3 separate regions of the Homo sapiens genome follow, and regions 1 and 2 are each linked to region 3. The links come from fine-mapping of genetic effects on gene expression. A gene starts in region 3. Each other region holds a variant in brackets. All regions are shown on one strand. Distances are between the middles of the regions.

What was found. PIP is the estimated chance that this variant, and not a neighbour inherited with it, causes the effect. A credible set is the group of variants that fine-mapping cannot tell apart.
Region 1: its variant is the best candidate, but not a certain one, in a credible set for the expression of LINGO4 in lung (TOPMed, PIP 0.81).
Region 2: its variant is the best candidate, but not a certain one, in a credible set for the expression of LINGO4 in whole blood (TOPMed, PIP 0.78).

The regions. Positions count from the first base shown.
Region 1 is chr1:151,404,250-151,410,888 of GRCh38, reverse strand. It overlaps POGZ (pogo transposable element derived with ZNF domain), which reads left to right. Exons shown (of 19, transcript NM_015100.4): 13 at 2,061-2,195; 14 at 2,308-2,480; 15 at 2,649-2,789; 16 at 3,598-3,654; 17 at 3,866-3,978; 18 at 4,258-4,282; 19 at 4,425-6,639. The coding sequence ends at 6,087. Among named protein-coding and RNA genes, the nearest start is that of PSMB4, 8.0 kb to the right of the region's middle. The variant A/G (reference allele first, on the strand shown) is at 3,547.
Region 2 is chr1:151,367,944-151,374,779 of GRCh38, reverse strand. SELENBP1 (selenium binding protein 1) reads left to right here and starts at 2,075. Exons shown (of 12, transcript NM_003944.4): 1 at 2,075-2,142; 2 at 5,011-5,067; 3 at 5,226-5,338; 4 at 5,591-5,776; 5 at 6,461-6,581. The coding sequence starts at 2,139. RefSeq lists enhancers at 1,554-2,137, 2,138-2,721, 3,468-4,138, 4,139-4,810. The variant G/C (reference allele first, on the strand shown) is at 3,810.
Region 3 is chr1:151,802,795-151,809,630 of GRCh38, reverse strand. It overlaps LINGO4 (leucine rich repeat and Ig domain containing 4), which reads left to right and starts at 4,212. Exons shown (of 2, transcript NM_001004432.4): 1 at 4,212-4,401. It overlaps RORC (RAR related orphan receptor C), which reads left to right. Exons shown (of 11, transcript NM_005060.4): 11 at 1,998-3,560. The coding sequence ends at 2,159. RefSeq lists an enhancer at 285-785.

The DNA of each region.
Region 1 (6,639 bases), 400 kb after region 3:
ATTAGGTGAAGGTAGCAATGCAGTAGTTAAGAATAGTGCCTAAGATTCTGTCTTGGGCAGTTGGGTGAATGAGGGAACTATTTGCTGAAATAGAAACAATAGAGAAAGTATATTTGTGAGGGGGGAGATCATGAGCTTGGATATTGTAAGTTAGCAGTATCTGTGGATGTCAAGTGTAGCTGTTGGATAATAGATCTCAAGCCTGTGAGAGAACTCTGGGTTGTAGAAAAGATTTAGGAATCAGCGTTATATAAATCCTATAGATTTTAAACTTAAATACCATGGGCCCCCCAACCCTGTTGAGAATAAGAGAAGGCTTAGGATATTTGAAGTCCCTTATCTATAAAGCAACCACCATAGTACTAGGAGGAAAACCAGAAGAGTCTTAACCTTAAGGAAACTGGGGAGAAGAAAGTGTTTTAAAGAAAAGGGTGTGATCAAAATGTCATATGTTACAGGAAGGTGTCAAGCAACATAGAGACTTAGAAACAGGCCTTTAATTTAGCAACATTGATGAGAGCCATTTTGTTGGTTGGTAGGGTGGAAGTCACATTTCAGCAGAACAAATGAATGAGAGGTAAGGAAATGAAGACGATGTATTTAAAGAAGTTTATTTATAAAAAGGGAGGACCCAGGGTAGGTAAATCCAGAGGAAGAAGTGGCAAAGAAGAGTTTTTTATTGCTTTTATTTTCCTTATAAGATGAAAAGCTATGACTTCGTTTTAAAATACTACAAGAAGAGAGCCACTAGAGGAGAGTGAAAGGTATATAGTATATAAGAGAGGATTCAAAATGGAGAATAAGATGAGTGCATGTGTGCTTAATAGTCACATACATATGCACACAAACATATGTACCCTATTACACTCATAGTCTCCTTTGCACAGTAGTGACTGCTGATTGTCTACCACAACTGTATTTCCAAATAGGGGCATGGAAATTGTCTCTTAGCCTAAGCTTACAGAGCTTTGTTATCCTACTAAAGAAAATCATAGACATGGGTTCTATTTTTGAAGGACTTCAATACTAGGCAGACTGAATCCTCAAAGTGGTCTCACCAGGAGACATATCTGTATATACTGATGTGTTAAGTGAGAAAACAGCAAGGTATAGACAAGTGCTATCATTTGTGTTAAAAGGAGAAAAAGAAGAGGGCTGAGGTGGGAGGATCACTTGAGCCCAGGAGGTGGAGTCCAGCCTGGGCAACATGGTGAGACAACATCTCTACAAAAAGGAAAGGGAAAAAAGTAAGGGCCAGGCACAGTGATGCACGCCTGTAATCCCAACACTTTGGGAGGCCAAGGCAGGTAGATCACTTGAACCCAGGAGTTGAAGACCAGCCTGGGCAACATGGTGACACCCCGTCTCTACAAAAAAATACAAAAAGTAGCCGGGCGTGGTGGCACGTGCCTGTAGTCCCAGCTACTTGGGACGTGCAGTGAGCTATGAACATGCCACTGCACTCCAGCCTGGGCTACAGAGAGAGACCCTGTCTCAAAAAAAGGGGGCGAGGCAGGTAATGATTGGATATGAATGTATTTGTGATACAGTTATATGTGTAGACTGCCCACGAAAGCATACTCAGGAAACTGGTAATAAGTTGTTTGTATGGAAGGGGACTGAGTGTTGGAGTTGAAAGCAAAGTTGGAAGAGTATAGAAAAAAAAGTATGACTTTAGTTTACTATGTACATTGTCCTTTTTTAAAAAAAGAAGAATGAAGAATGTCCAGAAGAATGTCCAGTTGTCAGCAGTGTAAAGATATAATACAAATAAAGGTTACATCACTCATTCAAATTGTTAAAACAAGTCAGGAAAGGATGATTTGAGAACTTAGTCATCCTGGACTAGAATCCATCTTTCTTTGATATCATGGGAGGTGATGATTCTCAATGGTAGGTTTTGTGGTCATGTTGCATATTTCTTTCTTACTCTCTTAAATTATCAACAGAAAGGTGGGAAGAATGATATGGTTGACATTGATCTGCTTTCTCCTCAAAAAAGAAAATTTATTAGGAACCTTTAAGGGATTTTGTCTCTTTTTTTCCCTCCCCCACTTCAGAAGAGAAATGTTTATCACTGCAACAAATGCCGGCTGCAGTTTCTCTTTGCCAAGGACAAAATTGAACACAAGCTTCAACACCATAAAACCTTCCGTAAACCCAAGCAGCTGGAGGGCTTGAAACCAGGCACCAAGGTAAAGAGTTTGCCAGTGTCTTTTATAGGCCCAGGGAGGGAGGAATAGAGATTTTCAGTATTCTGAAATTTAGTGTGGGTGATGTCTCATTGTTACTTCCCTTGGTTCTCAGGTGACAATCCGGGCTTCCCGAGGGCAGCCACGAACTGTTCCTGTATCCTCTAATGATACACCTCCCAGCGCCTTGCAGGAGGCAGCACCGCTGACCTCCTCAATGGACCCTCTGCCTGTCTTCCTTTATCCCCCTGTCCAGCGCAGCATCCAGAAGAGAGCTGTTAGGAAAATGTCAGCGCCTTCTTCTAAGTGCTGGGCGGGTGGGGACTGGGTGGCCAGGATTATTCCTGATACACAGTGCAATCTGGTAGCTTTTTAGCAGGGTTTGTTGTCTGAAAATCCTACATTTTGGGGACCCATGAGGCAGTAATGAGAATTCTTTTTTTTTTTCCCCCACAGGAGTGTCATGGGCCGGCAGACATGCCTGGAGTGCAGCTTCGAGATCCCAGACTTCCCTAATCATTTCCCTACTTACGTACACTGCTCTCTGTGTCGCTATAGCACCTGCTGTTCTCGAGCTTATGCCAACCACATGATCAAGTAAGTTGGTTTTTAACCAGTGTTTTAGCTTGAGAGTTCAGATTCTTTTTTTCTTCTTCTTCTTCTTCTTTTTTTTTTTTTTTTTTTGAAGACAGGGTCTCACTCTGTCCCCTAGGCTGGAGTGCAATAGCATGATCTTGGCTCACTGCAACCTCTGCCTCCTGGGTTCAAGTGATTCTCCTGTCTCAGCCTCCCAAGTAGCTGGGATTATAGGTGTGCACCACCATGCCTGGCTGATTTTTTTGTATTTTTAGTAGAGACGGGGTTTCACCTTGTTGGCCAGGCTGGTCTCAAACTCCTGAGCTCAGGTGATCCACCTGCCTCGGCCTCCCTAAAGTGCTGGGATTACAGACATGAGCCACTGCGCCCGGCCCCAGCCAGATTCTTGAGCACTCATTTCATTTTCTCCCCTGCTTCTAATATGTTTCCTCCTTCAACTCTTAGAGCTATTTGTTCTTCTCTCCTAGCAGAGTGAGAGGCTCTGTTTTTTCGGTTTTGATGGTCTGTGCTCTAATTTCATAGGGCCTTGCTATTCAAGTACCAGTAGTATTAGGTGGGAGCTTGTTAGAAATGCTGACTCTCAGCCCCGCCCTAGGCCTACTGAACCAGAATGTGAATTTTAATAGATCCTCAGTGACTTGTATGCATATTAAAGTTTAAGAAGCATGGTGACAGGAAAACTGGCTTAGGTTGAGATTAGGGTGCACTGAAGAAGTGTCTCTTTTGTTGGGGGCATTGTCACTGGCTGGTGATCTCT[A/G]GCTTAGCCAGCAGAACTCCGTAACTCATACCACTTCTTTGTCTTTCTCAGCAATCATGTTCCACGGAAGAGCCCCAAGTATTTGGCTTTGTTTAAAAATTCTGTGAGGTAAGAAAAAACTTATTGGCAGCATCTTAATTTTTCAGGTTTTTACATTAATTTTCAGGTTTTTCATTATTTGGAGAGGTGGTTATGTGAATTAATTTCAGAAAAAGGAGAAAGTGGGAGGGCATTCCTTTTCTTTCTTAAGCCTCAAAGCTTAATGGTCTCAAGTGTCACTGCTGTGTTTGTCTTACATAGTCTCAATTCTCTTTTTTAGTGGAATCAAGCTGGCCTGCACTTCATGTACCTTTGTTACCTCTGTGGGCGATGCTATGGCCAAGCATTTGGTATTCAACCCCTCTCACAGATCCAGCAGCATCCTGCCACGGGGTAAGTAGGAGAGAAGGGGATTAGTTGAGCAAGGGGAGGAAAAAAGATACAGGTTCGTACTGTATGCATCAGGAGCATACCTACTTGGCCTCACTCATTCACTGTTGAGATGTGCTGGACCTAATTAGAAACCTTCCGACCTGAAGTTTATATAAAACTGGGAAAGCTGGTCACTGCGAACAGCGTATTTGTATGTAGTAAGTTGAATCCCAGGGCACTGTCTTTGGAGGGCTTATTTTTTCACTGAGCTAACTATTTTTGTTGTTTCATTTTCCATAGGACTCACTTGGATAGCTCACTCAAGGTAACAAAAACTCACCTCACAATTTAATTTCTGGTTTGCAGTGTGTTTACTCTGTTATTATTATTATTATTATCATATTATTGTTTCAATTTCCTAGTTGAACTGAGATTTCTCCTCTTCTCTTTGCTCCTCACCCCTTTAGGCATGGCCAGACTCGTGACCGAGTGCATGACCGGAACGTGAAGAATATGTACCCTCCTCCTTCCTTCCCCACTAACAAAGCTGCCACTGTGAAATCTGCGGGGGCCACCCCAGCTGAGCCTGAAGAGCTACTAACTCCCTTAGCCCCAGCACTCCCATCACCAGCCTCAACTGCAACCCCACCACCAACCCCCACTCACCCGCAGGCTTTAGCCCTTCCACCGCTGGCTACAGAGGGAGCCGAATGTCTGAATGTTGATGATCAGGATGAAGGGAGCCCAGTCACCCAAGAACCTGAGCTAGCATCAGGTGGTGGTGGTAGTGGTGGAGTTGGCAAAAAGGAGCAGCTGTCTGTGAAGAAGCTTCGAGTAGTACTGTTTGCTCTATGCTGCAATACAGAACAGGCAGCTGAACACTTCCGAAATCCCCAGCGACGTATTCGCCGTTGGCTTCGACGTTTCCAGGCCTCCCAGGGGGAGAATCTAGAGGGCAAATATCTGAGCTTTGAGGCAGAAGAGAAACTGGCTGAGTGGGTGCTAACCCAGCGCGAACAACAGCTACCTGTAAATGAGGAGACCTTGTTCCAGAAGGCCACCAAAATAGGACGTTCTTTGGAAGGGGGGTTTAAGATCTCCTATGAGTGGGCTGTGCGTTTCATGCTGCGGCACCACCTGACTCCCCATGCCCGGCGAGCTGTGGCCCACACCCTACCTAAGGATGTAGCAGAGAATGCAGGACTCTTCATTGATTTTGTACAACGGCAGATTCACAACCAGGACTTACCCTTGTCTATGATTGTGGCTATTGATGAGATCTCTTTGTTCCTGGATACAGAGGTGCTGAGCAGTGATGATCGAAAGGAGAATGCCCTGCAGACAGTGGGCACAGGGGAACCTTGGTGTGATGTAGTCCTAGCCATTCTGGCAGATGGCACTGTCCTTCCCACCCTGGTTTTCTACAGAGGGCAGATGGATCAGCCTGCTAACATGCCAGACTCCATATTGCTAGAGGCAAAGGAGAGTGGCTACAGTGATGACGAGATCATGGAGCTGTGGTCAACTCGAGTGTGGCAGAAGCACACAGCTTGCCAGCGCAGCAAAGGCATGCTTGTGATGGACTGTCATCGCACTCACTTGTCAGAAGAGGTACTGGCTATGCTTAGTGCCTCTAGCACTTTGCCTGCAGTGGTCCCAGCAGGCTGTAGCTCCAAAATTCAGCCATTAGATGTATGCATCAAAAGAACTGTCAAGAACTTCCTGCATAAAAAATGGAAGGAACAGGCTCGGGAAATGGCAGATACTGCATGTGATTCTGATGTCCTGCTTCAGCTGGTGCTTGTCTGGCTGGGTGAAGTGCTAGGTGTCATTGGGGACTGTCCAGAGCTAGTTCAGCGCTCCTTCCTGGTGGCTAGTGTTCTGCCTGGCCCCGATGGCAACATTAACTCACCTACAAGAAATGCTGACATGCAGGAGGAGCTAATTGCCTCCCTAGAGGAGCAACTGAAGCTGAGTGGGGAACATTCTGAGTCTTCCACTCCACGACCCAGATCATCTCCTGAAGAGACAATTGAGCCTGAAAGTCTTCACCAGCTCTTTGAGGGTGAAAGTGAGACCGAGTCTTTCTATGGCTTTGAAGAAGCTGACCTAGATCTGATGGAGATTTGAGTGTTGGGGTCATGAGGGGGTGTGGAGTGAGGGTGGGAACATGTGAGGGAGGGTAAAGGGGCTTAGGGAAAAGGGGGCATACCAGGTGGGGTATTTGGTTTCTATTTTTTAATTTTATACCACCACTCCCCCCTGAAGTTGACTTACACTTCCCTGTGGATTTGTGGATTAATTAGGAAAACCAATAGTAATCACGTCTGAGCCAAGGAGCTGGCCCATTGGTCATTCACTTCTGCTAAAAACAGGTTTTTGTGACTTTTTTTTTTTTTAAATTTAAATCACTGTGTTTGGTATTTTTCTGACAAAATTAAGAAAAAGAAAAAAAATTATTTGTGGGCAAATGTTAAATTTTTTTGTTTCCCCTTTTACCTCAATTGTATCATAGTACTGGGTTTTTTTGTTTGTTTTATTGTGTGGCCAATGTCTTTGGGCATGATGCTATCTAATCATTGTTAATGTGAGAACATTTCTGAAGATGGGAAAGACAAATTATGTAGCTCACAAACTGGTTTATTATATATATGGATAAAAAACTTTTTTCATTGTGGTCTT
Region 2 (6,836 bases), 430 kb after region 3:
TGAGACCAGTCTGGGCAACATAGTGAGACCCCCCATCTCTACAAAAAAAATTTAAAAATTATCCAGGTCAGCCAGGCACGGTGTCTCAGGCCTGTAATCCCAGCACTTTGGGAGGCGGAGGTGGGTGGATCACTTGAGGTCAGGAGTTCGAGACCAGCCTGTCCAACATGGTGAAACCCCGTCTCTACTAAAAATACAAAAATGAGCCAGGTATGGTTGTGGGCACCTGTAGTCCCAGCTACTCGGGAGGCTGAGGCAGGAGAATCGCCCCTCTACCTTTACTGCCTCCCTCTGTAGCCCAGATTAGGATAACTTCCCCAACCACCTGCTGGCTGTAGAGCAAGAGTTCAGGGAGAAAACCACAGGCAGAGGTGAGGGGTGCCATGGAGTTGCTGCAGAGACCAGCCAGGTCAGAGCTCAGGAGCATGAAAGAGGTAGTCAATGACAGACCACAACAAACAAAATAACAGCCTTTTTTTTTTTAAGTTAATGACTCAATAATTTTTTATGAGAAGGTGGGGATAAAGTTTCTTTCTCTTTCAGATCTTGGGTGGTGGACTAACCCAAGCCAAGAAGCCGGAGAATAGAGAGGAGGCAGGAGATGGAGACCTCAGGAGGAGGAAGAGGGGAGGGCCAGAGGGAAGGGTGAAGGCAGGGTGAGTGGAGGTAGTCAGGACAGGAGGAAGCTGGCAAAGACAAGGAAGCAGCCTTCAGGGCCTTCCCCGTGGGGCAGCTGCACACACAAGACTCTCTTTGATGCCTGGCAGGCTGATGGCACAATGGTGAGGATAATAGATGCAGGATGGAGCCAAGAGGGGTTGAGTGGCGCTGGGGATAAGAGAAGACCCTTGCCCCGGGCAGCCACAGGGAGTCTTCCTTGATGGGCACATGATCCCTCACTGATGGGAGCCAGGAAGACAGATACCCAATGCACCAAGGCCCAATTTTGCTCCCCTTCCCCCACTCTGGTTTGGAAACCCTGTATTCTACTTGCAATCTCAAGCCCAGACTTTATTCTTTTTCCTAGCCAATAAAAACTTCACCCCAGAGCTTTTATCCAAAGAGTATGAATATCTGGAATAAGAGGGCAATCTTAGGGAAGAAGTGACCCTGGCTGATGGGCCCACAGTCCCGGGTGCCCCTAAATGCTAAGAGACAGGTCCAAATACAAAGACGAGCATTTGGAGACACAGGAACACATACGTGCGCAGGCTTACACAAGCACATGCACAGCCACATAGCCACACACTACACATACACAAGCACTTATGCACATGTCCACACAGGCGTAGATACTCTAGCAAGCACATACTCACAGAGGCGCGCACACACACACACACACACACACAGGCGTAGATACTCTGGTAGGCACATACAGAGGCGCGCACACACACACACGCACAAATACACACAAGCACACTCACAGGCACATTCACACACGTGGAAATTCACACACAGGCACAGATACACACTCATGCAGGCACGTGCACGAGCAACACGCAGGTATACAGGAACACACACATGCCCAGACACACAAATCCACACACACCCAGGCACCCACTAAAGAGCACGAGCTGGTCAGGGGCAGCGGCTCACACCTGTGATCCCAGCACTTTGGGAGGCCGACACGGGTGGATCACCTGAGGTCAGGAGTTTGAGACCAGCCTGGCCAACATGGTGAAATCCCTTCTCTACTAAAAATACAAAATTGCTGGGCATGGTGGTGGGTGCCTGTAATCCCAGCTACTCGGGAGGATGAGGCAGGAGAATCACTTGAACCCAGGAGGCAGAGGTTGCAGTGAGCCGAGATCGCACCACTGCACTCCAGCCTGGGCAAGAGTGAGACCCTGTCTCTAAATAAATAAATAAATAAATAAAGCACAGGCTCCCACACATACACACTTAAACACATACACGCACACCCCATAATTCAAACACCAGTTGCCCTAGGCCACTTGAGAGTATCCTGGCCAGCTGCCCTGAGTAGTTTACTCTGGGCTACAGCCCGGGCCCTCCTCCTTCTCTGCCCCACCCCCAGCTGGTTGTATAAATTCCCTCCCTTCGCTCCTTCCCCGGAACAGCGGCCTCTGACACCAGCACAGCAAACCCGCCGGGATCAAAGTGTACCAGTCGGCAGCATGGGTAAGGAGAGGGGTTTCCAATCACCCATTGCCTGCTCTGTCTGCCCCTAATTTGGAAGGCCCTCCTCCAGAAAATGCTAGAAAACCTGAGTGGGGAGCTGGGGAGGGAGTAGTGGACTCTGCTTCATTGTCCCCAGTCTGCACACCCCCTCCCCCACCACCCCACTGCATTTCCCAGCTCAGCCAAACTTTCTGAGGAAGACGGGCAGAGGCACTGCTGGGAGATGGGATCCTGGGCCCTGACTTGGCTCCATCCAGCAGAGGCTGGGACCAGGGTGCCTTTCTGCAGCTGGGAAAATCAGATGGGCGCTCTTAGAAAACACCACTAGGTCCCTGGCCCTCACATAGTAGAGAGGTGATCCTGATTTCAGCCATGGGCCAACTTTGTACTCCAGCGAGGTAGGGAGTCCAAAGCCTTTCTGTGCCCAGGTCACTCTCTAGCTACTCCACACAGCAAAGCTCTCTGGGAGGGAAATCAGAGACCCCCACACTCTTTCACTGGGGACCTGTTTCAATGCCTCCCCCACCCCTAAATCCCCCTTGGCCCTGCTATTCCTCCATCTGTAGGCTTCTGGGTGACAGGCTAAGAAGGAACTGAGGTTTGGTTGGGAGGTCCTTCCCCGCTCGGGGCTGGCTCTTGAGCTGGCAGAATGCCGAGCTGGCAGAATGCCCAGCAGCCAGCCTGACATGGAAAACCCACTTGAGCTTTCCATGAGTCCATCCCAAACCCAAAGCTGCTCCGAGACCTTGCTTGAGATGTTTCAGATGGGGGTATTCCCCAGAAAGAGGAATGATGCTCCCTGGGGCTGCAGTGGCATGCCAGGCCTGACCCTAAGAAATGCTGGGGCTGGGGTTGCTGGGGTGTGGGGTGGGCCGAGGCTGCAGAGCGGGCAGCTCCATCTCTGCACTTTTACTTCCCTCTCAGCTTCTCCCTAGCTTTGTATTTTTTGTATCTCTGTCTTGAGGTCTTGGAGTTTTAAAATCTCCTTTCCCTTCTGTATCCAGCAACCTCCTTCCCCACCCCCTGTCATCTGGTGCCAAGCCCCGACTTAGCAAGATTGTGTAACAGAACCAGTCTCCTTAACTCCTGTGAACTGGACCTCTCTCTCTCTCCCTGCCCCACCTCCAGCCCTCTCGCTGGGCATCGAGCACTCCCTGGCATTCTCCTCTCCTCTGGCACAGCCCTTCCCATATTTACACAGTAATTCATTATTTTTTTTTTTTTTTAGTCAGAATTTCACTCTTGTTGCCCAGGCTGGAGTGACTGCAGTGGCGTGATTTCGGCTTACTGCAGCCTCCACCTCCCAGGTTCAAGTGATTCTCCTGCCTCAGCCTCCCAAGTAGCTGGGATTACAGGTGTATGCCTGTATTTTTTAATACAGGCTAATTTTTAATACAGGGTAATTTTTGTATTTTTAATAGAGACAGGGTTTTGCCATGTTAGTGAGGCTGGTCTCAAACTCCTGACCTTAGGTGATCTTTCCGCCTCAGCCTCCCAAAGTGCTGGGATTACAGGCATGAGCCACCGCACCCGGCCTAATTCATTTTTATGAAAGGCCTTTGGAATACATTGTCTTATTTGTCCTCCATATCTACCTAGCAAAGTAGGTAGAATATCATTATTGCCCACTTTTCGTAAATGAAGAGGAGAAAATGGAGAAACGGGGC[G/C]TCAAAACTGGGACTTGAAACCAGGTTTCCAGACTCTGAACGCTGTTGCTGCCTCTCAGCTTCCTAAGTCTCTTGGCTGCTGCGAGTGGGAGTCCCAGGCCCCAGTGGAGGCCCCACTCTGCCTACTCCTGGCTCCCCACTTGCGGCCCAGCTGTGAAGGCAGAGGCTGGACTGGCCACAGGACAAGGCAGGAGACAGGGCCCAGGCCTGTGGACTCCACTCCAGGGTTTCTTTCAGCCTGCCACCCCCTCTGGGTATTCTTTAACCCCTGCTCCCCAGCAGGCCCCAAACTCTGATGCTGGGGTGCTGGTAGCTGTGATGTCCCAGCCCTACTGCACATCTGCTGACTTACATCCTGGAGATTAGCATGGCCCCTCTTGCCAGACTTCAGAGATAGGGAGGGTTGCTCCCTATCTCTCTGGTGGGCAGGCCTCTGGGCTCTCCAGAGTTGGGCCAAACACCTTACTTTACAGATAAAGGAAGTGGGGCACACCCAGGGGTAGAAACCAGCCTGAGGACTTCCAGTTGGTATTAGCCCCAGACCCTCGGTTATGTAATCCAGCCCTTGGCTAGCAGCCTGGGATCAGGACCCAGGGGAGAGAAAAGCAGGAAGTGGCCTCCCCCTGATATAGAAGCATCTTGGTGAAGGGAGCTGAGCAGGCGCCACCCCACTCCCTGAGAGCAGCTCCTCAAGAACAGCCAAGGGTGCCTGGGCTTCGACCAGACAAACACAGAGCTGCACACCTACTGCACCCTCGTGTTTACTTCTCGTAAAAGCCCACTGTGAAATTCTTACCATCTCCATTTTACAGAGGATGCAGAAATTGAGGTCGAGGAGCTTCAGTACTTTGCCCAAGCTCCCCTGGCTAGTCAGTGGTGGGCTGGGGTTGGGCCCCGAGTCCGTGTCATATTCACTACACCACACGACCCCGGCTGCATCAGCCCTCCTCCCACCCTCCCGGGGCCCTGCTGGACTGTCTGTCCACCTTCAGGTCATGTGTCTCCAGCTCTTCCCAGCACAACCTCACCCTCCTCAGGGCTCTGAGGGGGCGGAGAGGACAGGCCAGAGCGATGAGGCTGGAGTGGGGACCTAGGCCAGCCGCACTGCCGTGGCCCGCTGGGATGTGTGCTGCAGAACGTGCGGAGGGAGCCTTCACCCTCCAGAGCGTGGCCCAGCCAATGCGCCCCATTGCTTCCACAGCTACGAAATGTGGGAATTGTGGACCCGGCTACTCCACCCCTCTGGAGGCCATGAAAGGTAATTGCCCATGGTCTGAGAGCCAGCGCCCTACTACTGATTCCACAGCTGGGGGTGGAGGGACTTCAGACCTAGCCCCCACCCTCTGGCACACCCAGCACTTCCCCTACCTTTCCTTCCCACCCTGCCGTCCCTGCTGCCTGCTTTCTACCGTGCAGGACCCAGGGAAGAGATCGTCTACCTGCCCTGCATTTACCGAAACACAGGCACTGAGGCCCCAGATTATCTGGCCACTGTGGATGTTGACCCCAAGTCTCCCCAGTATTGCCAGGTTAGGCGGGGCTTGGGCGCCAGCTACTTTGAGACCATAGCTGCCCTCATCCCTGGCCCTGGGCCCCCCCTTCCCAGCTCCATCCTTCTTGGCCCTCCCTGGGGATGCTTGTGCACGCTCAACCTGGGACAAGGGGAGTGCTGAAATCCAGCCTGTGCCGTGCTTCCAAACCAAAATGAGTCCACAGGGCGCCTCTTCCAAAAGTGGACAGAGGCGTGGCCTGGGGGAGCACCACCTCTCCCCGCATCCTAGGTCATCCACCGGCTGCCCATGCCCAACCTGAAGGACGAGCTGCATCACTCAGGATGGAACACCTGCAGCAGCTGCTTCGGTGATAGCACCAAGTCGCGCACCAAGCTGGTGCTGCCCAGTCTCATCTCCTCTCGCATCTATGTGGTGGACGTGGGCTCTGAGCCCCGGGCCCCAAAGCTGCACAAGGCATGTCCTCTGCCCTTGCCAGCTCAGTAGACCATAAGACACCTGCCACCCCAGGTAGTCTACGGGCAGGAAGCCAGACCTAAACCAGCAGCCTCCAGCTCTTACGCGGCAACTGGCTCGGCAGCAGGGAGGGAGGTTGGACCTCAGAGCAGAGTCTACCCAGGCATTCTGGGTCATCACCCTCCAGCACGGTGACCAGGGCATGGGAGAAGAGGGACAAGGCTTCTTGTTTTACTCTGAGAGAGGGAGGGAGCCATTTATTCCCCCATGCAGTTAGGAGCTCAGGGTTCTCTTAAAAATTCCGGTCTCTCCCAACACTTTGTTTAGTGCACTTTTGGTGCCAGGCATTTACTGTGTTGTCTACTGGTAATACAGAGTTGACACTGGTGTAGGCCAGCCTGGGAGGAGCTTATGGTTTCACAGGGCTGCGTGTGCCTTCAGGACACATGGGGAAAGGTCAGCGCTTTCTGCCTGGGGAGTTATTAGCAATCTCTCTGACTTTCCCTTGCTGCTCTGTAGAAGTTACCAGACTGAATCTTTGTCATATTCCCACAGGGAGAGTTGTGTCCATGTTTTGAAGGAAAAGATGACAGAGTCAGCAGATAGAAGTAGGGGAAGTATGGAGGTTAAGAGCAGGGACTCCCAGTCCTGTATGATTCTGACACCATTCCCCACCCCTTCCAGGTCATTGAGCCCAAGGACATCCATGCCAAGTGCGAACTGGCCTTTCTCCACACCAGCCACTGCCTGGCCAGCGGGGAAGTGATGATCAGCTCCCTGGGAGACGTCAAGGGCAATGGCAAAGGTACCTGCCAGCACTGTGTGCTCATGAAAACTTCCACAGCTGTGAAATGTGGGAAGCATTTTTCTGTGGGAGGAGCAGAATGGAAGGGGAGGGTTGGAATGACTTCCCAAGGAGAACCAGTGAGCTGGATCCCAGCCAGTATTTTAAATGTTAGCAAGTAACTTCAGTTTTGAATATTTCTATTAAGATGAGTCTTCACTGATGAATTCAGTTCAAAGTTATAGTCAAAACAGGCCAGGTGTTGTGCCTCACTCC
Region 3 (6,836 bases):
ATACATCACCTTCCCTACTATTACCACCACCCTGGCCCCTACCAGCTCTCAGCTTTCACTTGGACTTTAAGAGAGGCCTCCTAACTGAGCCCCTGTTCCACCCTCATCTGCCCTGTAGCAACCACACCTACTCCGCACCCACGGTAGCCCTTTTAAAAATGCAATCTCATCATGCCCTACTCCTGTGGTTTTTTTCTTGTTTTTGTTGTTGTTGTTTGTTTGTTCTGTTTGTTTGTTTTGAGGCAGACTTGCTCTGTCGCCCAGGCTGGAGTGCAGTGGTGTGATCTCGGCTCACTGCAACCTCCACCTCCCAGGTTCAAGCGATTGTCCTGCCTCAGCCTCCTGAGTAGCTTGGATTACAGGGATTACACGCCCGGCTAATTTTTGTATTTTTAGTAGAGACAGGGTTTCACCATGTTGGCCAGGCTGGTCTCGAACTCCTGACCTCAGGTGATCTGCCCACCTTGGCCTCCCAAAGTGTTGGGATTACAGGCGTGAACCACCACACCTGGCCTTGACTCCTGTTCTCAGCCCTCCTGTAGCTGCCTGTGATGCCGAGAATCAAATCTAGAGTCTGCGTCATGGTCAAGTGGCTCATAACATGATCCCTGCCTTCTTTTCTCACTTGATCTTCCACTGCCCCTTCAAACACCCATTGCAGCCACACTTGCTTCCTTGCTATTCCTCGAACACATCAAACCCAGTCGCAGGGCTTTTGTACCTGCTATTGTAGTCACCTGGAGGGTTCTTCCCCCAGTTTTCCAAATGGCTTACCCCATCTCTTCATTCGGGAGAGGTTTTTCCTGACCAGTAACCCCATACAAAAAGCTTTAGTTTTCTTTAAAGAACTTATTATCTGATACACTACATATTTATTTTCTGGGCCCCTCACCAGAATGTAAATTTAATCAAGGTACAGATTATACTTTATTGACTGATATATCTGATATATCACTAGAGGCCATCACAGTGCCTAGCTCAGATCCAGATGTGTTCTCAACAAATATTTGTTGAATGAATGAAGGAAGCTATTGCCATAGCCCAAAAAAGCTCAGAATAAAGCAGTGGTGAGGAAGAGAGAGAATCTAGGAGATATGAAGGGATCACACCCTGCTGCCTGCTTTTCTCTGACTGCCTCTTTCCAAGGAAACTAAGCTGGGGGAGGGAGGCAATGGCAGGCAAGAGACATTTTTAAGCCTCTTGGTTGTAGAGGAGACTGCAAGAGATAAATTGTTCTTTCAGCCTTGCTCCAGTGAGGTCTCCCTGCCTCCGTCTGCTCACTGGTTTCTGTGCCTTTTTCATCTCCCCTTTGGCTGAGTGCTGGCAGCATTGGTTTGCTACTTGCAGTGTTAGGTGCCTGCTTAGAAAGTCTGTTTAGTTCAAAGAGTTATTAAGCATGTGCCATGTGCTAAGCATTATGATAGGTACAGAGGAGACAGGGAAAGAGAGACCTCAGCCAAGGAGCTGAAATCTAGGGTGGGAAGGCAGACAAATTGGACCATTTTCCTGCAATGTAGTAAGTGCTACACAGAGGAAAGCCCAAAAGAAGGGCCCTTAATCCAGATGGGAGGCAGTTAGGGAAATAGTCTTAGGAGAGGTGACACTAGAGGGTAAGGATTAGTAATGGGAAGAGGGGAACAACATGCACAAAGGCAGAGGCATGTGACAGCATACAACAAGAGTCACAGACAATCACTCTTATAAAAGCAGGAAGTGCACATTAGAGTCTTTGACAAGGTTCATTCTAGAAGTATTGGGAACATAAATTGAGGGCTTCACCCAGAAAACATTCACCTGTGCCCCACCCACTCTCACTTCCCTCCAGTGTCCTGAACACACACGTACTTCTACCAGTGGGATTTGGCTGGTGCCAAAGTGCCAAGTACATAAGGGGAAGGCAAGGAGGGTTTGTCCTAGCCCAGGAAGAATGAGCGGACTTCTTTGCTCTGAGGAGAGCTGAAGTATTGACCCTCCCTTCCCCATTAACCCATATCCAGCTGCCACCCAAGGGGAAGCTTCGGAGCCTGTGTAGCCAGCATGTGGAAAGGCTGCAGATCTTCCAGCACCTCCACCCCATCGTGGTCCAAGCCGCTTTCCCTCCACTCTACAAGGAGCTCTTCAGCACTGAAACCGAGTCACCTGTGGGGCTGTCCAAGTGACCTGGAAGAGGGACTCCTTGCCTCTCCCTATGGCCTGCTGGCCCACCTCCCTGGACCCCGTTCCACCCTCACCCTTTTCCTTTCCCATGAACCCTGGAGGGTGGTCCCCACCAGCTCTTTGGAAGTGAGCAGATGCTGCGGCTGGCTTTCTGTCAGCAGGCCGGCCTGGCAGTGGGACAATCGCCAGAGGGTGGGGCTGGCAGAACACCATCTCCAGCCTCAGCTTTGACCTGTCTCATTTCCCATATTCCTTCACACCCAGCTTCTGGAAGGCATGGGGTGGCTGGGATTTAAGGACTTCTGGGGGACCAAGACATCCTCAAGAAAACAGGGGCATCCAGGGCTCCCTGGATGAATAGAATGCAATTCATTCAGAAGCTCAGAAGCTAAGAATAAGCCTTTGAAATACCTCATTGCATTTCCCTTTGGGCTTCGGCTTGGGGAGATGGATCAAGCTCAGAGACTGGCAGTGAGAGCCCAGAAGGACCTGTATAAAATGAATCTGGAGCTTTACATTTTCTGCCTCTGCCTTCCTCCCAGCTCAGCAAGGAAGTATTTGGGCACCCTACCCTTTACCTGGGGTCTAACCAAAAATGGATGGGATGAGGATGAGAGGCTGGAGATAATTGTTTTATGGGATTTGGGTGTGGGACTAGGGTACAATGAAGGCCAAGAGCATCTCAGACATAGAGTTAAAACTCAAACCTCTTATGTGCACTTTAAAGATAGACTTTAGGGGCTGGCACAAATCTGATCAGAGACACATATCCATACACAGGTGAAACACATACAGACTCAACAGCAATCATGCAGTTCCAGAGACACATGAACCTGACACAATCTCTCTTATCCTTGAGGCCACAGCTTGGAGGAGCCTAGAGGCCTCAGGGGAAAGTCCCAATCCTGAGGGACCCTCCCAAACATTTCCATGGTGCTCCAGTCCACTGATCTTGGGTCTGGGGTGATCCAAATACCACCCCAGCTCCAGCTGTCTTCTACCACTAGAAGACCCAAGAGAAGCAGAAGTCGCTCGCACTGGTCAGTCGGAAGGCAAGATCAGATCCTGGAGGACTTTCCTGGCCTGCCCGCCAGCCCTGCTCTTGTTGTGGAGAAGGAAGCAGATGTGATCACATCACCCCGTCATTGGGCACCGCTGACTCCAGCATGGAGGACACCAGGGAGCAGGGCCTGGGCCTGTTTCCCCAGCTGTGATCTTGCCCAGAACCTCTCTTGGCTTCATAAACAGCTGTGAACCCTCCCCTGAGGGATTAACAGCAATGATGGGCAGTCGTGGAGTTGGGGGGGTTGGGGGTGGGATTGTGTCCTCTAAGGGGACGGGTTCATCTGAGTAAACATAAACCCCAACTTGTGCCATTCTTTATAAAATGATTTTAAAGGCAAGAAGTGTGTGTGTCAGAGGGTGGGGGAGATTCTTAAATTAGATTACCTGCATGCCTGCTCTCCAGTCTCATTCCTGGGTCAAGACTCAGGTTTCCAGCTCAGCAATCCATCAGCATTATACAGATCCAACCCACCCTCACCCGACCCCTGCAGTTTCTCCCCAGGTGGAGCAGTCCCTCAGTGAGGACTGTGAACGAATCTTCAGGAACCCCCACTGTAGGAGCCTCAAACTGAGCCCCACGGGAGATGCTCTAGACTGAGAACTTCCCATAAATGATACCCACGGGGAACGTTTAGATTTAGAGGTTGCACAGAATTGCTCCACATCTGGGAGACCAAAAGACAGTCCTCTGGAAGGTGGCTGGCCCAAGCTCCCCAGTGGGGGAATCAGGATGTCAGAGAGATCCTCTAGAACCTGCTGTTCTTGCTATTGCATGACCCCTCCCTGGCACCAGAGCCTCCCTCCTGGCTCCCTCCCCTGTCACTTGCCAGCCTGTAGTGGTGCTTGCTGCAGCCCTCCCTGGTTGCTTTATTTATTTATTTTGCACCAACAGGGTTGCTGCAGACTCATTCTTGCCTGGTTTAAAAAGAGAGAGAGAGAGAGAGGAAAAAAAAAAAGGAGAAATGCTTTCTGGCTCTTTTCTCCACCTCAGTCTTGGCAGCAGCGGCCGCAGCAGCAACAGCAGCAGCAGCAGCGGCAGGCAGCAGCCGGGCAGCCAGGCAGCGGGGGTTGAGGCACACAGGGAAGGTGCAGGGGCCTGAGGTGCAGCTCGAATGGGACAGGGCCCCCAGCGCTGGACAGATGCAGTGCCAAACTTGATGCCACCTTCCAGCTTCTCCGGTAAGTGCCCCCACTCTCTGTCCCAAAGATGCAGCCGCCCTTTTCCATAACATTCTCCGAGACAGGCCAGACTAGGGGCCAGACAGGCCCCTCAAGGCAAGAGGGTTTGGGCCCCCACACTGCTAACAATTAATCCTGGCCCCATGGGACTTTGAGGGGGAAACTCAAATATCCCAAGTACCCCTGGGTGGAAGGGCTCCAAGGAGACCTCCCTTCCATCTCCCCAGTGCTTCCCCTTCCTCTGGAAGGGTTTTTCTCCACAATCGGTGTGGATCTTCCAGAAATCTTTCCCCCAGGAACCCTCTCCCCACACAGTTCCCATTTGTCAGTCAGGTGTGCTTTAAAGAGGATACAGGATACCCAGGTTCAAAAGTGTCTCTGGACTGCCACATAAAGACAAGAAAAAGGCTCCCTACCCTTGAGGGGTGATGCCTTCAAGGGTCATGTCTTGGTGATGTCCCCACCCCACTGAAGGGACAAAAAAGTGGTTCTGACATCTCGCTTCCTGCAAAGTGGCCGGAAGCCGGTCCTGCAGCCATGGAGGTTGGCAAGGGAAATTTGTGATTAAATTAGCCACCTTAGAAATAAAATAGGTTGCTCCAGCTCCCTCAGCCCCTGGCCCAGCGGACTCAGGGGAAACTCACAGGAGCAGGAAGGAAGAAAGCTGGGTTACATGCTTCACTGCACTTTTGCTGAATGCAGAGCGAGGATGGGCAGGAACTGCAGCAGTAGTGATGAAGAGCTAGCTGTCAGGTGGACTTCCCAGAACAAGCCTAGGGAGAACAAGGGAGGCTGGGCCATCTTTCCCGGGAGAGCTCTGGGCATGCCACAGAGACCTGTTAGGTCAGTTTGGGGCGAGAAGAGTCTGCTCTGCAGTCTTTGCCCCACGTTATTCTTTTTCATCCCCAAGCCTCACACCAGTTTTCTGCATCCCTCTGCTCTTTTGGCCTCTTTCTTTAGTTTCCCAACTAGGACAATCCTCTCAAGTGGCTGTAGGATAGCCACTAGAATGATCCTTCTAGGAGGTGGAGAGTGGGAAGGAAAGGGGAAGAAATGACCATCTCTTAAACTGCCTCTCCTAAGTTCCACATGAGAAAAAACAGGGCATGTAGTAGAAAGCTGACCCTGTAGAGCCCAGAGAGCCTGAAGCCCACAAGCCCAAAGGTGATCAGGATTGCCGCTCAGCAGAGACTCAGACGCGCTGTATCCCAGAGAGCATCCATGGGCTTTTGCTCCTATCTCTGTAGCCATCCCTTGCCAATTCCAGTACTTCCTCTGCCTTGGGGTCCCTGTTGACATCTAACAGGATGAGTCAGGGGCCCTCATCACCTAGAGGGCCCCTTCTCCTCTGTCACCTCAGCCATTGTAGTCACCATCTTCCTGAGGGTTCCCGGAACCTGGTACCCAGAAACTGACTATAAGTCTACAGGCTCTGCACACTGTCTGTGCCCAGATACCTGCTGTGCCAGCCAACGGCTCCCTTCCTCCCCATCCTACAGCACTTGGTCAGATGCTGTCTCTCCTCACTTATCTATGCTCCCTGGTCCACAATCTGTCTCTTGGGAATTTCTCAGGCAGCTCAGGCCAAAAGGGACAAGAGCTCTCCCTCAGATCCACACACTGGACCAGAATCCAAACACCATTAAGGAGGGATATGAGGGAAGCCCAAGACTGAAGACCAAGCAACAGAACTCAAAACCTGGGCATCCTTTGGGTCTCTCACACACCCCAACTTCAATTGCAGTAGAGAAGCAGTTGCCCCTGGGCTCTTGCAGGGGATTCCCAGCTTCCCAGTCAAGTGCCTCCTGCATCCTATGCCACAGCTAATGTACAGCTTGGCAGTTGTCCACACAGGCATTTTGGGGAGATTGGATCTTGTTAGTCCAGGGCTCAGGCCCTGGGCCAGGCTGGAAGAGGGCTCAGCATGGGGGTGGAGCTGAGGCCTGCATGTTTCCCAGCCTTGGGTGAGCTAGTCAAGGTGAGGACCTCTCCAGTCAGGACAGGGAACTCTGGGCCAAGGACATGATCTCCCTGAGCCTTAAGCAAAACTATGGGTACATAATGTGAAAGAATAAGCGTGAGCAGAGAGGGACAGAGCAGAGCTTGGGAAGAGCAGGTATCAGGGAGAAGGGACCTGAGATCCTCCTGGATCTCACAGACATCAGGAAACCCCATACAGAAAGACTCAGTACCTCCCTGCTGTTCCCTGCCCCATTCCCATAAGCTTTTTCCCCACAGAAATCAGGCTTGGCTAGGGTTCCATGAGCCAGTAAGCACTTGGCTGGTTATCCAGGGCTGGAAGAGGGAGGAAAGCAGAGATTCCCCAAAGAGAAGCTCCAGGAAGCCCCAGGGAGGTGGCACACAAGAATTCTTCCTGGTTCTGTGCCCTACTTATTGGCAATGCTGAGACAGATAGACCAATTTCTCTCCTCTCT